3 linked regions of the Homo sapiens genome follow. The protein of the gene in region 1 interacts with the protein of each later gene in a pairwise test. Each region holds a gene or a part of one and is shown on either strand. Other genes may lie near its edges.

Region 1 (3,747 bases):
GGAGGCTGCAGAGAGGGCGCAGGGTGGGTGGGGCCTCCCCACAGGAAGCAGGCTGGGGACTGGCAGGCGGGTGTCCACAGGCAACGTGCTGTCCTCACCCCACCCCTAGGTCCTCACCTGTCCCAACGCCTCCTTCACGGACCTTGCCGAAATTGTGTCTCGCATTGAGCCCGCCAAGCCCGCCATGGTGGATGGTGAGTGGAGGCGCAAGACGAAGCCGTGGAGACGTGCGTGACCTCCTGATGCTGTGTTGGGCTTGAACCCCCCCACCCCAGAGGCCCACGGCCTCCCCTCCCGCCCACGTCCACGCCCAGGCTCCAGCAGCTGGGGTGCTTGGTGGCACTCCTCCGTCCCGGGCACCACGTGTTCCCACAGCAGTGGGACTGTGACCACCCCGGGTCACCCAGCCCCTGCCCTTCATTCACCTCAACTCCCAGCCACACCTCAGGCCTGAAGTAGAACCACGTTTTGCCTCCCACCCCACCCAGTGGGAAATGGGAATGAAGGCTGCTTGTTGGAGGGGCCGCAGGACAAGAAGGGCGGGTCCACTACCCTCCATGCTCCATCCAGGGCCCTGCGCTTGGGCCTTCAGCCAGTGGCCTCCTCACAGCAGAACTGGACATTCTCCTGGGAGACGTCTTCATGGCTGCCGCAGGCCGAGAGGGCCCTGGGCAAGGCAGCCCCTATCCACAGTTGCCAGGTCTGGGGTGCTGGAGCCCTCAGGGTGCTTGGCTGACAAGGGGAGGAGTGTCTGCCCGCTCCTTGTCCTTGTGGAAGACCCACGAAGTGATGTGCTGGGGCAAAGCTGGAGCCAGACAGAACCAGGGGTGGTGTGCAGGGCTGCCCTGGGACCAGGTGGCTGCGTGTAGGGCCCCGGGCCACCTTGGAGGCGGGGGTGGGCATCTGTGGCCGGTTCTGCCTCTGAGTGTGGCTATGCTGGGTACGGTCCCTTCCTTGGGAGGGGACTGACGCAGCCCTACCCTCGGTGCCAGACGAATCTGACTACCAGACGGAGTACGAGGAGGAGCTGCTGGACGTCCCCAGGGATGCATACGCAGACTTCCAGAGCACCTCAGCCCAGCAGGGCTCAGACTTGGTGAGGAGCTGGGCATGGTCCCACCTGGTGCCCACAGCTGAGCCTTGGTGCCTGGCCCTGTGCCGGCCACTCCCTCCCTGTGGTCCCACCGGGTTACCAGCGCTGCAGAGCCCCTGCCCTGCCTGGTCCTCACCTGGAACATGCGGTCTGCTTGCAGGAGGACGAGTCCTCACTGCGGCATCGACACCCCAGTCTGGCTTTCCCAAAACTGTCTGAGGGCTCCTCTGACCAGGACGGGTAGAGGCCTCTGCTAAAGAGCCCGGATGCAGCGTCTTCCGTGGGACTGTCCCCAAGGCTGAGGCTCCTGCCAAGTCCTAGGGGCCTCTGTACCTGCCCTGCTGGAAGCCCTGACTTCCCCGGGGCCCCAGGCTGTGTTAGGGTTCTCTGGGCCTCTTCTTTGTACCAGCAGCCCTGCATACAGGGCCCTGTGAGCCCCCCTGCAGTCCTGTGAGGCCCCTGAAGCTCTGTGAGGCCCCTGAAGCTCTGTGAACCCCCTGCAGCCCTGTGAGGCCCCCCGAAGCCCTGTGAGGCCCCCCGAAGCCCTGTGAACCACCTGCTGCCCTGTGAGGCCCCCAAAGCCCTGTGAACTGCCTGCTGTCCTGTGAACTGCCTGCTGCCCTGTGAGGTGTGGGAGCCCTGATGCTGCCGTGTGATGTTTCAATAAAGGTGGATCTCACTGTTGGACGTGTCTCCCGGGCCGAGGTCCCTGTGGCAAAGAAACACTACTGGTTCTCCCTGATGCGGGTGGTCCCTGAGGCTGGGCAGTCCCCAGTCCTCCTCAAAGGACCCCACTGCTGGGGCCTGAGAGCCCTAGGGCGGCAAATGCAGGCCAGGCAGGTAGGGCGTCCAGAGTCTGCATAGAGCTGTGGCCCCCCAGGACCAGGACGGGCCCCTCTGTCTCTCTCTGGCCTCGTGCAAACTGGGTGCCCCCTAAACTGGCTTCCCCTTCGGTTTCCAGTTCCCAAACTGCACAGGGAGCCCTTTTGTGTAAGGGGAGGGAGAACCGGCCTCCCTGTGATCCTGCAGGTCTGAGCAGCAGATCGTGAGGGCCGAGGGCCCAGGACTTTGCGACCAGGGGGCCGCTGGCCTCAGTTTCCCCGCTCTGGAGGCCTGGACGAGAGGGCGCGGAGCCAGGCCGCCCGGCCCCGCCCCCAACTCAACCCGGGCCCGGACGTCACGGTGGGCGGGGCCACATGTCCTCTCCGAGCTCTCCGGGGCCCTGACGTCACGGTAGGTGGGGCCGACCGCCCCTCTGGGCCCGCCCGGGCCCTGACGTCACGATGGGCGGGGCCGGCCCTCGGTTCGGGCAGCGCTCTCCCGGGAGCGGCGGCACGCGCGGAGCGCCGGGTGCGGCCATGCGGGGACCGGGCCCGACCCCGAGCCCGACCCCGAGCCCAAGCCCGAGCCGGAGCCCGAGCGAGACCCCGAGCCCGAGCCCGAGCGCGACCCCCGGTGCGGCGCGGCTACCCCGGCGGAGGCGGCGGGCGCGGGGCGCGCTCTGAGGCCCGGGGGATGCGCCGCCGCCTCGACCATGGGCGCCGCCGCCTCCAGGAGGAGGGCGCTGAGGAGCGAGGCCATGTCCTCGGTGGCGGCCAAAGTGCGGTGAGTGCGGCGGGGCCGCCTTCCCGCACCCCGCCCTGGACCTCCGACCCCGCCCGAGTCCGCCCCTGCCCCGCGGTGCTCCCCGGGCTCCCGGGCCCCGGCCTCTGCCACTGAGGCGCCCTCCCCGCGCCCCGCGCCTCCCTCTTCCTGGTCCCCTGCCCTGCTCTTCCCTCCCCTCCCCTCGCGAGCGCGTGGTGGGCGAGCGCACCCCCCAGGTCGGGAGTGGCCTCGGTTCCCCCGGGGAACAGCAGCCGACCGGCCTCGCGACCCCTCTCCACGGTCCGACGGGCAGGGGCCGGGCCTGCAGGCCTGGCCAGGGCGCACCAGGACCAAGGGTGTGTGGGCTCCCGGAGGGGGACGACCCCGACCCTCCTTCCAGACGCCGAGGGCCTGGCTGGGGACCGGACCCCCGGCTCTTGCGCGGCCCGGTGTTTGGGAGGGTCGTGCCGTGGCCTCTGACCGTGCCCTCTGTCCACCCTCAGAGCAGCCCGAGCGTTTGGAGAGTACCTGTCCCAGAGTCACCCTGAGAACCGCAACGGCGCAGGTAGGGGCACGCGAGGCCGTGCCAGGGCCGCCCAGACCCCCCAGCCCAAGGGATGCTGATCCCTGCCTCCGGGGGTGGAGCGTGAGGGGCATTGGTTGCGCGTGGGCCCGGCGCCCTGCCGGCCTGGCTTCCTTACATCCCCTGCCCTCCCTGCCCGAGCCCCAGGAGCAGTTCCCAGCCGCTCGTCACCATGGCACCCACCCCGCCTGGGCCGTTGGCATGGCAACAGGCCTCCTGGCTCCCCCAGGGCTGGCACCACTGCCTCTGGGGGCCAGCTGGTGGGGGGAGGGGGAAGTTGGCACCAGGCAAACGGTGCGATCGCAGGCTGGGGGATGGCCTGCGTGTTCCTACCCGGCAGGACCGCACACAGGTAGCACAGCGTCACCCAGCCCCCACGCACATGCTAGAGCTTCAGGCCCAGATAGGAGTGAGGGGCTCAGAAACACGCCAGTGACTAGGGTTTGGGCAGCCCTAGTCCCCCACAGAGGCCAGGTGCCCACTGGGT
Region 2 (3,747 bases), on another chromosome or scaffold:
CAGACACTGAAAGACAAATATCACACTGTTCACTCATAAGTGGGAGCTAAATAATGTGAACACATGGCATTAGGGTATGGAATAATATACACTGGAGACTCAGAAGGGTGGGGGGAGGATGATGAGAAATTAATTAATAGGTACAATGTGGTGATATCAATCTGGTGATAGATATCAATAGATATCAATCTGGTGATAGATACCAATAGATATCAATCTGGTGATAGATACCTTAGAAGCCCTGACTTCAAGACTATGCAATTTACGCTTGTCACAAAATTGTACTTGTTCCCCATAAATTTATGTAAGTTTTTTTGTTTTTGTTTTTGTTTTTATGAGATGGAGTTTCTCGTCACCCAGGCTGGAGTGCAATAGTGCCATCTTGGCTCACTGCAACCTCCGCCTCCCGGGTTCAAGCAATTCTCCTCTCTCAGCCTCCCGAGTAGCTGGGATTACAGGGATGAGCCACCACGCGTGGCTAATTTTCATATTTTTAGTAGAGACAGGGTTTCACCATGTTGCCCAAGCTGGTCTTGAACTGCTGACCTCAGGCGATCTGCCTGCCTTGGCCTCCCAAAGTGCTAAGATTACAGGCGTTAGCCAATGTGCCCGGCCTGTAAGTTTTTTAAAAACCTAGAGGTGAGTAATTATAATAAGTGATATTATTATTATTATTACTCTTAACAACAATGACAATGATGACTGATGAGGGCTAAGTACCAGCTACTATCCAAGCACTTCCATGATTTATTTCTATTATTTCTCACAATGACCCTATGGGTACCCCTATATTACAAATGAGAAAACTGAGGCTGCCATCTTTCTAAGGTCTAAAGTGATTTTCTGGGAGCACAAACAAGAGCTTAATTAATTTTAACAGATAAAGACAGAAAAGGCTTCACAGAAGATTCACCTTTTCAGGGCAACCTAAAGAAGTATGGGTTGGTTTTCTTTAAGCTGAAACATTACGGCAAGAACCTGGAGTAATATCTGCTTCAAAGGGGAGTTATGCAAAGTCAACAAGAGAAGACGTGTAAAACCCAAGCACAGTACCTGGCACAAAGTAGATGCTCCCAAATCTTTGTTCCCCTTCATTGATCCTCTGTGATGGAAGGAACTTGTAGCCACTTTCCTCATCCGCCTTGGTTTTTCAAAAACACCCTTTGAAGTTATAACCTCCTTGGGAGCCAAGGCTTCTCTGAAGCACCCCATTACAATCTTTGCCCTCAACTCAGAACTGGAATGTGTTTGAAAATGCTAACAAGGGCAGCAGCCCCACCTCTTCGTCATTGCCTAAGGTTGTTAGGCAAACACACACACACACACACACACACACACACACACACACACACATGCACACACACTCACACAGTTGCTGGGGAGATCATGGTAAACACAAGCCTCTCTTTTGGATCAGAATAATTGAGTGGTCTCCCTTTGTGGCCAGTGTACAGGAACAAATTAGATGGGTAAATTAGCAGTTCCCGAAGACATTAGCAACCAGCGGCTCACACAGCAAGCGCCTGACTCACCGTGGGGCCTCTCCAAGTCACAGCCTATGAATAGATGCTCTTCCTCCCTCCGAAAGAGAAGCCAGAGTGCCCGGAACACCACAGGGGAAGCTTGAAGACTTGTACCCCTTTGGAGTCTTTTTATTTTAAAAGACCAATTTAATCACCACTTCTTCTGGCTCCTTGAAGATGAAAAAAGTTCCCTTGCAATCGTCCATTCATCAGAGAATTAATGAAGCCTACTCACCAGCAGATGATGTAATCCTGGTGGCTTCCCCCATCAGATCTAGGCTGCCTGCCCCACGGATACCTTCTGGGCTAATTGCCTGCTTTGCACCTGTTCCTTCTCGGGAGGCCCTGGCACCCTAGCACCTGGTGCCTGTGCCATCTCCCCTCTCTGCCAGGACACCCAGAGGCCCTTGTGAATAGCAAAGCCCACTTAACGGCTGAGGGCAGGTGGGGGTATTTCCTTCTCAATTCTGCTCAAGGCCCGTTGCTGTTCTTTGAGGATGTTGCAAATCCAGGGTTTGGAGGGCTGGGCCTCTTGGTGGCCTGGTTGTCTATCTGATAGGGCGGAGCCTTCACCCTTGCAGCGAGCTCTCTCACACCAGATGTGCTCTGCGTGGAATCCTAGGCCATCAGGGGATTCCTTAGCAAGCCCTGCAGGACCCAAATCCTAACTCAGACCCTCATCCTCCTACTCAGAATGTGGAGACTTGTGATCCTCAGTTTGGACGAATTCCAAGAGACCTTCCAATTCCCAGAGGCCATCTTTGGTTCTGTTCACACATAGCTCCCTCTCCCTCCTAGGCCTTCTCCCTTTGAATTTCTCCCCTACACCATCAGCCTGTATTTACTTCTCCTTCTTGCTTAATGCATGACTATATTATCCCAGTTAAGGGGGTCTGCAGGTTTTATCAGAAAGTTCAGAGGCTCACATGACCTGGATTGGAACTTGGCTCAGCCACTGACTAGCCAGACAAACTCAAATAACGTACACAGCTTCTCAGCACCTCACCCCCTCATTCATAAAAAACAGGGACAATGGTACCCACTTTGCAGGGTTGTTGAGTGGATTAAATTAAACAACACAAGGAAAGAGCTTTCCTAAGTTCCAATGCTATGTAACACACACAGTATTGTCTTACCCAGCAATAATTTCGGTGCACGGATCTGATCATCTCTTAATTAAATATTGAATTCTCCTAACACGGTTCTTTTTTTGAACCCCTCAGGGTCTGAACAGTTATAAGTGCACAGAAGTTGGGTCTTTATGAGCTGAATAAAAGGAGACTCCGGCTGTCTTCTCTTTTGTCCTTACCATAAAGCTCTTGTCAGCTGCTCTCCTGGCCCTGCCTCTGACCCTGGGCTTTGGGGCCACTATAGGCTCTCCTTTCCTTGTCCCCCTCTGAGTCCTGAAGTCCTGGTTTGCAATCTGCTGTTGCAGTTCTCTGGAATGGCTGCTTCCCCATGCGCCCCTGTCTGTCAGCTACCTCCCCCGCATGCATGTCTGTCTGCTGGGCAAGGCCCAATTCCGAGGTGACAGCTCACCGGGCCTCACCCACAAGTCTCTTCCAAGCATTAGCAGCCCACCCCAGTCCAAAGATATCTTTTATAGCTGATCTCTGGTGGCACCTCCTACCTTCCAATTAGGAGCCTGTCAACACCCAGGCCATCACTCTTCCTGCAGTGTCTGACAACACACACGCCTGCCGCGGCTGCGCCGGGAGAGTCAAGCAAAATTGTTTCCATGGTGGTGGTGGTGGCCTGAGCACAAGAGTTGAAATCTAGGTGAATCTGAATCTAGTTCTGCCTTCTCACTTTGCAAGGAGGTGTCTTATTTCTCTTTGAATTGGCAGCACCAAGCATCATGCCTGGCACACAGTAGGTACTCATAAATAAACACGTGTAAATCAAAAAGGCCGAAGATACATTGCTAGCTTGCAGACTCCCTTTCTCAATGTCTAATGATATCCAGTTCATTTCTTTCTCTTACATGTGCAAATCAGAAAGTTAGCTCATAACTCATCTGTTGTGACTTTTTCTTTCCTTTACTTTTGTGGTTGAAAATAAATTTACCCCAGAAAAGAGAGAGAGAAGGTGCCTGATTCCTTTGTCCTCCCTCTTCGATCCTCTCTAAATCCCTGGGTCATGGTAAGACTCTCTGAAATTCAGGGCCATTTTCAGACACTGGAGCCAATGAGGGAAGTATGACACAATCGAACATTTTTCTTAT
Region 3 (3,747 bases), on another chromosome or scaffold:
TGTTCTAAGCACTTGAGATGTATCAGAGAACAAAACAGACAAAGATCTATTTGGGGTGGTAGCATGTACATCTGGTAAGATGAAACAGACAATAAACATAAGAAGTACAATTTATAGTACATTTAAGGGTGAAAAAAAGAAATAGAATTTAAAAAATAGAAAAAGTAGAGCAGACATCTAGTCATTCTCTAGGTTTCCCAGCTGCCCACCAATGAACAGCTACTACATATGCAGGCACAACAGGGGCAAATGGTAGTGTTTTCAAATAGTACACTTTGTGTGTGTGTGTATGTGTGTGTGTGTATGAGACAGGGTCTCACTCACCTGGAGTCACCCAGGCTGGAGTACAATGGCACGATATCAGCTCACTGTAGCCTCGACCTCCAGGGGGCTCGAGCAATCCTCCCACCTCAGCCTCCTGAGCAGCTGGGACCACAGGTGTGCACCACCACACCTGGCTAGTTTTTTGTATTTTTGGTAGAGATGGGATTTTGCCATGTTGCCCAGGCTGTCAAATACTATAGTTTAGCTCTCAATTCAAAACTTTCCTTAGCCATCTGCACTAGCATAGCAAATGAGATCAGCAGGACTTACAGACTTGATTAAAGCAGCAAGAAGCACAGTTTCATTCAGGGATAGGACAAAAAGAACAGAAAACTGGATTCCCAGCTCCAGGTGATCTCAGAGCAGCCATATCCTCAAAGCAGAGCTGGCAGTTTTAAAACACGGTTCCAGGCTGGGCGTGGTGGCTCAAACCTGTAATCCCAGCACTTTGGGAGGCGGAGATGGGTGAATCACAAGGTCAAGAGATCGAGACCATCCTGGCTAACATGGTGAAACCCCATCTCTACTAAAAATACAAAAAATTAGCCAGGCATGGTGGCGGCCGCCCGTAGTCCCAGCTACTCGGGAGGCTGGGGCAGGAGAATGGTGTGAACCCGGGAGGCGGAGCTTGCAGTGAGCCGATATCGTGCCACTGCATTCCAGCCTGGGCGACACAGCGAGACTCCGTCTCAAAACAAACAAACAAACAAAACCTCAGCTCCAAAATTATTTGATACTCCTTCCATTCAGAGATGGGGGTCTATGTCCCATTCCCTTTGAATCTGGGCTTTATGACTGTTTGGCCAATAGAACGTGGAGGAAATGATACAGTGCCAGTTTTCAGGCCACAGTCTAAAGGAACTGGTGGCTTTGCTTTCTGTCTCTTCTTGGGTACTCACTCTTGAAACCTGTTATGGGCTGAACTGTGTCTCCTCCCCAACCTCCCTGAATTCATATATTTAAGTCCCAATCCCCAGCACCTTATAATGTAACTGTTTTTGAAGATGAGGTCTTTAAAGAGGTGATTTAAGTTCGAAGGAGGTGTTAGGGTGGACCCTAGTCCAATACAGCTGGTATCCTTATATATGAAGAGGAAAAGACACCAGGGATGGGCATGCATATGGAGAAATGACCATGTGAGAACACAGCAAGAGGGCAGTCATCTACAAACTAAGGAGAGAGGGCTTTAGAATGAAATCAAGCCCTGCTCACACCTTGGTCTTGGACTTCCAGCCTCCAGAACTGTGAGGAAATAAACTCTGTTCTTTAAGCCACAGCATCTGTGGAATTTTGTTAGGACAGCACCACAGACTAATACAGAATCCAACCACAGTGCTGTGAGGAAGCCAACATGGCCCCATGGAGAGAAGACCCACATAGAAAGGCCTGATAGTTTGAGTGAACCATTTTGGCAGCAGATTCTCCAGACCCTTCAAGACCAGCTGATGCTGTGCGGAGCAAAGCTGAGCAAACCCCACTGAGCTCTGCAAAAACCGCAGGCTCATGAGAAAAATGAATGGCTGTTTTGGTTTTAAGCCACTAAGTTATTGGGGTGTCATGCAGCAACAGATAGTCAGAACAGCAAGAGAGATGGCTGAAGAAAGAAAGCTGAAGGGGTCAAAGCAGAGGAAGAAAGGTAAGAACAAGGACAGAGTTGTGAAGAAGATCCAGGATACACCTAGGATGCACGCCCATCAATGTCAAAGCTCAAAGGGCTTGCATTTCCACACAATTCCTACATGCATTGGAAATACCTTCACCCTAAAACAACATTTTTCTTGACAAAAATACACAGCCAGACAGTTGGCCAAAGGAGAGTCACTTTTGTGACCTAGCAGGAGGAAGCTAAGGAATACATGCTCACCATAAAGTGCTGAAAGAAGGTGGACTGTCATATTCTTTTCTACAGTAACGTTTCTTACTACAAAAATAATGTATGCTCATTGTCAAAATACAGATAAGCAAAAAGATAAAAACTAAAAATCACCTGTAAGTTTACCGCCTAGAGATATCTAGGTAGATAAATATCCCTTTATTCTTTATTTTTGTGAATCTATCTTTATATATTTTTTCTTTTTCAAAAATAGGTTCATAAACTACATGCAGGTTTACAGCTGCTGTTTTAACAATTTACGAATAACTTCTCATGTCATCTTCTATGATATAAGTTTGAATGGCTGCACAGTATTTTATTATATGACTATATCATAACTGCATTACTCAATCCACTCTTTATTGGGCATTTAGCTGTTTGTAAATTTCTTACTCACTGAATATCCTGTATGGATAGCTTTGCACATACCCATAAACATTTCCACAAAACAAATTCCCACAAATGGGATTGCTGTATAAAGGATATGCAAAATTCTGAGGCTGTGAGTAGCTATTGAAGTGCCTCTCCCAGAGGTTGTACCAGTTCATACTTTCAGCGCAGCACATGTGAGCAGAAATGCCCCTTACGTTGAACTGAGTACAAATTGTGGAGTTTTTGTTTGGTTTTTAGTTTGTCAGTTTGTCAGTTAGCCCATTTCTCCTTGATTTAGTCCACATTTTTCTCCCAAATTGATGAGGCTGAGCATCTTCATGTGTTAACTGGCTGTTTGTACTTCTTTTGGGAATCACCTTTTTATTGCCTCTAGACACAGGAAGTTTAGGGAATGACTACTTTGGAGAGAGAGAAAGAGAACAACAACTACAGTGTATGAAAGACACGGAAATGATGACAACATCATGGAATCCAGACAGACAAAAAGAGAGGTAGATCTGTTTTGATAGTGAATCTGTCCCAACTACAGATTTCCAGCGAAGAGGACGGTGCAGGCTGAGTTGGGCTTCCCTGATAATAGCCTTGGTTCTCAGGACCTGAGTAGGGATAGAGGTATACAAGAAACAGCTTGTCCTTCCTTCACGTCCTTATTTGTTACAAGGCATGGTCCAAATATCCCTATTGGTTTTCCAACCTTTATTCTACCAGTTCCAGTGACTTTAGCAATAGGCATCAGTAAGGGGCAGACAGAAGACAAGCACGAAGTAGGAAGGCAATTTCAAAACTGGGAGGAACCTTGGAAATCATCTCACCTGGTCCCCTCAGTTTAAAGATGAAGGAGTCTAAGGCTGGAAAGTCGAGATGATTTACCAGCAAGTGGTAGCGCCAGGAAGTGGTTAAACCGTAAGGGGATGCATTGAGGACTCAGGAGCCAGCTGGAAGGGTCTCTCACTGGCAGATACGGAACAATCCGAGCTTCCATGAAAATAACAGGTTGTAGTGTATTTGAAAAATACAATTTCCTGAACCCATACTGATAGGAATAAATGAATGATAAATAAGCTGTGAAGAAAGAAAAGCTCTTCCTTATAATAGAATGCCAACAAACAAATGTTGAAATAATGTGGAAGTCAGAGACTGGCTATGTGACAAACATC

The links.
Region 2: the proteins of NSMF (region 1) and LMO2 interact in binary tests that used the Homo sapiens proteins (3 or more experiments, as listed by UniProt).
Region 3: the proteins of NSMF (region 1) and TTC23 interact in binary tests that used the Homo sapiens proteins (3 or more experiments, as listed by UniProt).

Annotation. Positions count from the first base shown.
Region 1 is NC_000009.12:137,457,983-137,461,729, reverse strand, and holds the start of NSMF (NMDA receptor synaptonuclear signaling and neuronal migration factor), read left to right. Parts: upstream 1-2,395; 5' UTR 2,396-2,627; coding exon 2,628-2,698; intron 2,699-3,180; coding exon 3,181-3,242; intron 3,243-3,747. Other genes in the region: PNPLA7 (patatin-like phospholipase domain-containing protein 7), read left to right, coding at 110-194, 993-1,096, 1,254-1,337. UniProt on the Homo sapiens protein: Couples NMDA-sensitive glutamate receptor signaling to the nucleus and triggers long-lasting changes in the cytoarchitecture of dendrites and spine synapse processes. Part of the cAMP response element-binding protein (CREB) shut-off signaling pathway.
Region 2 is NC_000011.10:33,890,037-33,893,783, forward strand, and holds the start of LMO2 (rhombotin-2), read right to left. Parts: upstream 2,041-3,747; 5' UTR 1,759-2,040; intron 1-1,758. UniProt on the Homo sapiens protein: Acts with TAL1/SCL to regulate red blood cell development. Also acts with LDB1 to maintain erythroid precursors in an immature state.
Region 3 is NC_000015.10:99,221,982-99,225,728, forward strand, and holds part of TTC23 (tetratricopeptide repeat protein 23), read right to left. Parts: intron 3,566-3,747; exon of another isoform or gene 3,403-3,565; intron 1-3,402. UniProt on the Homo sapiens protein: Participates positively in the ciliary Hedgehog (Hh) signaling.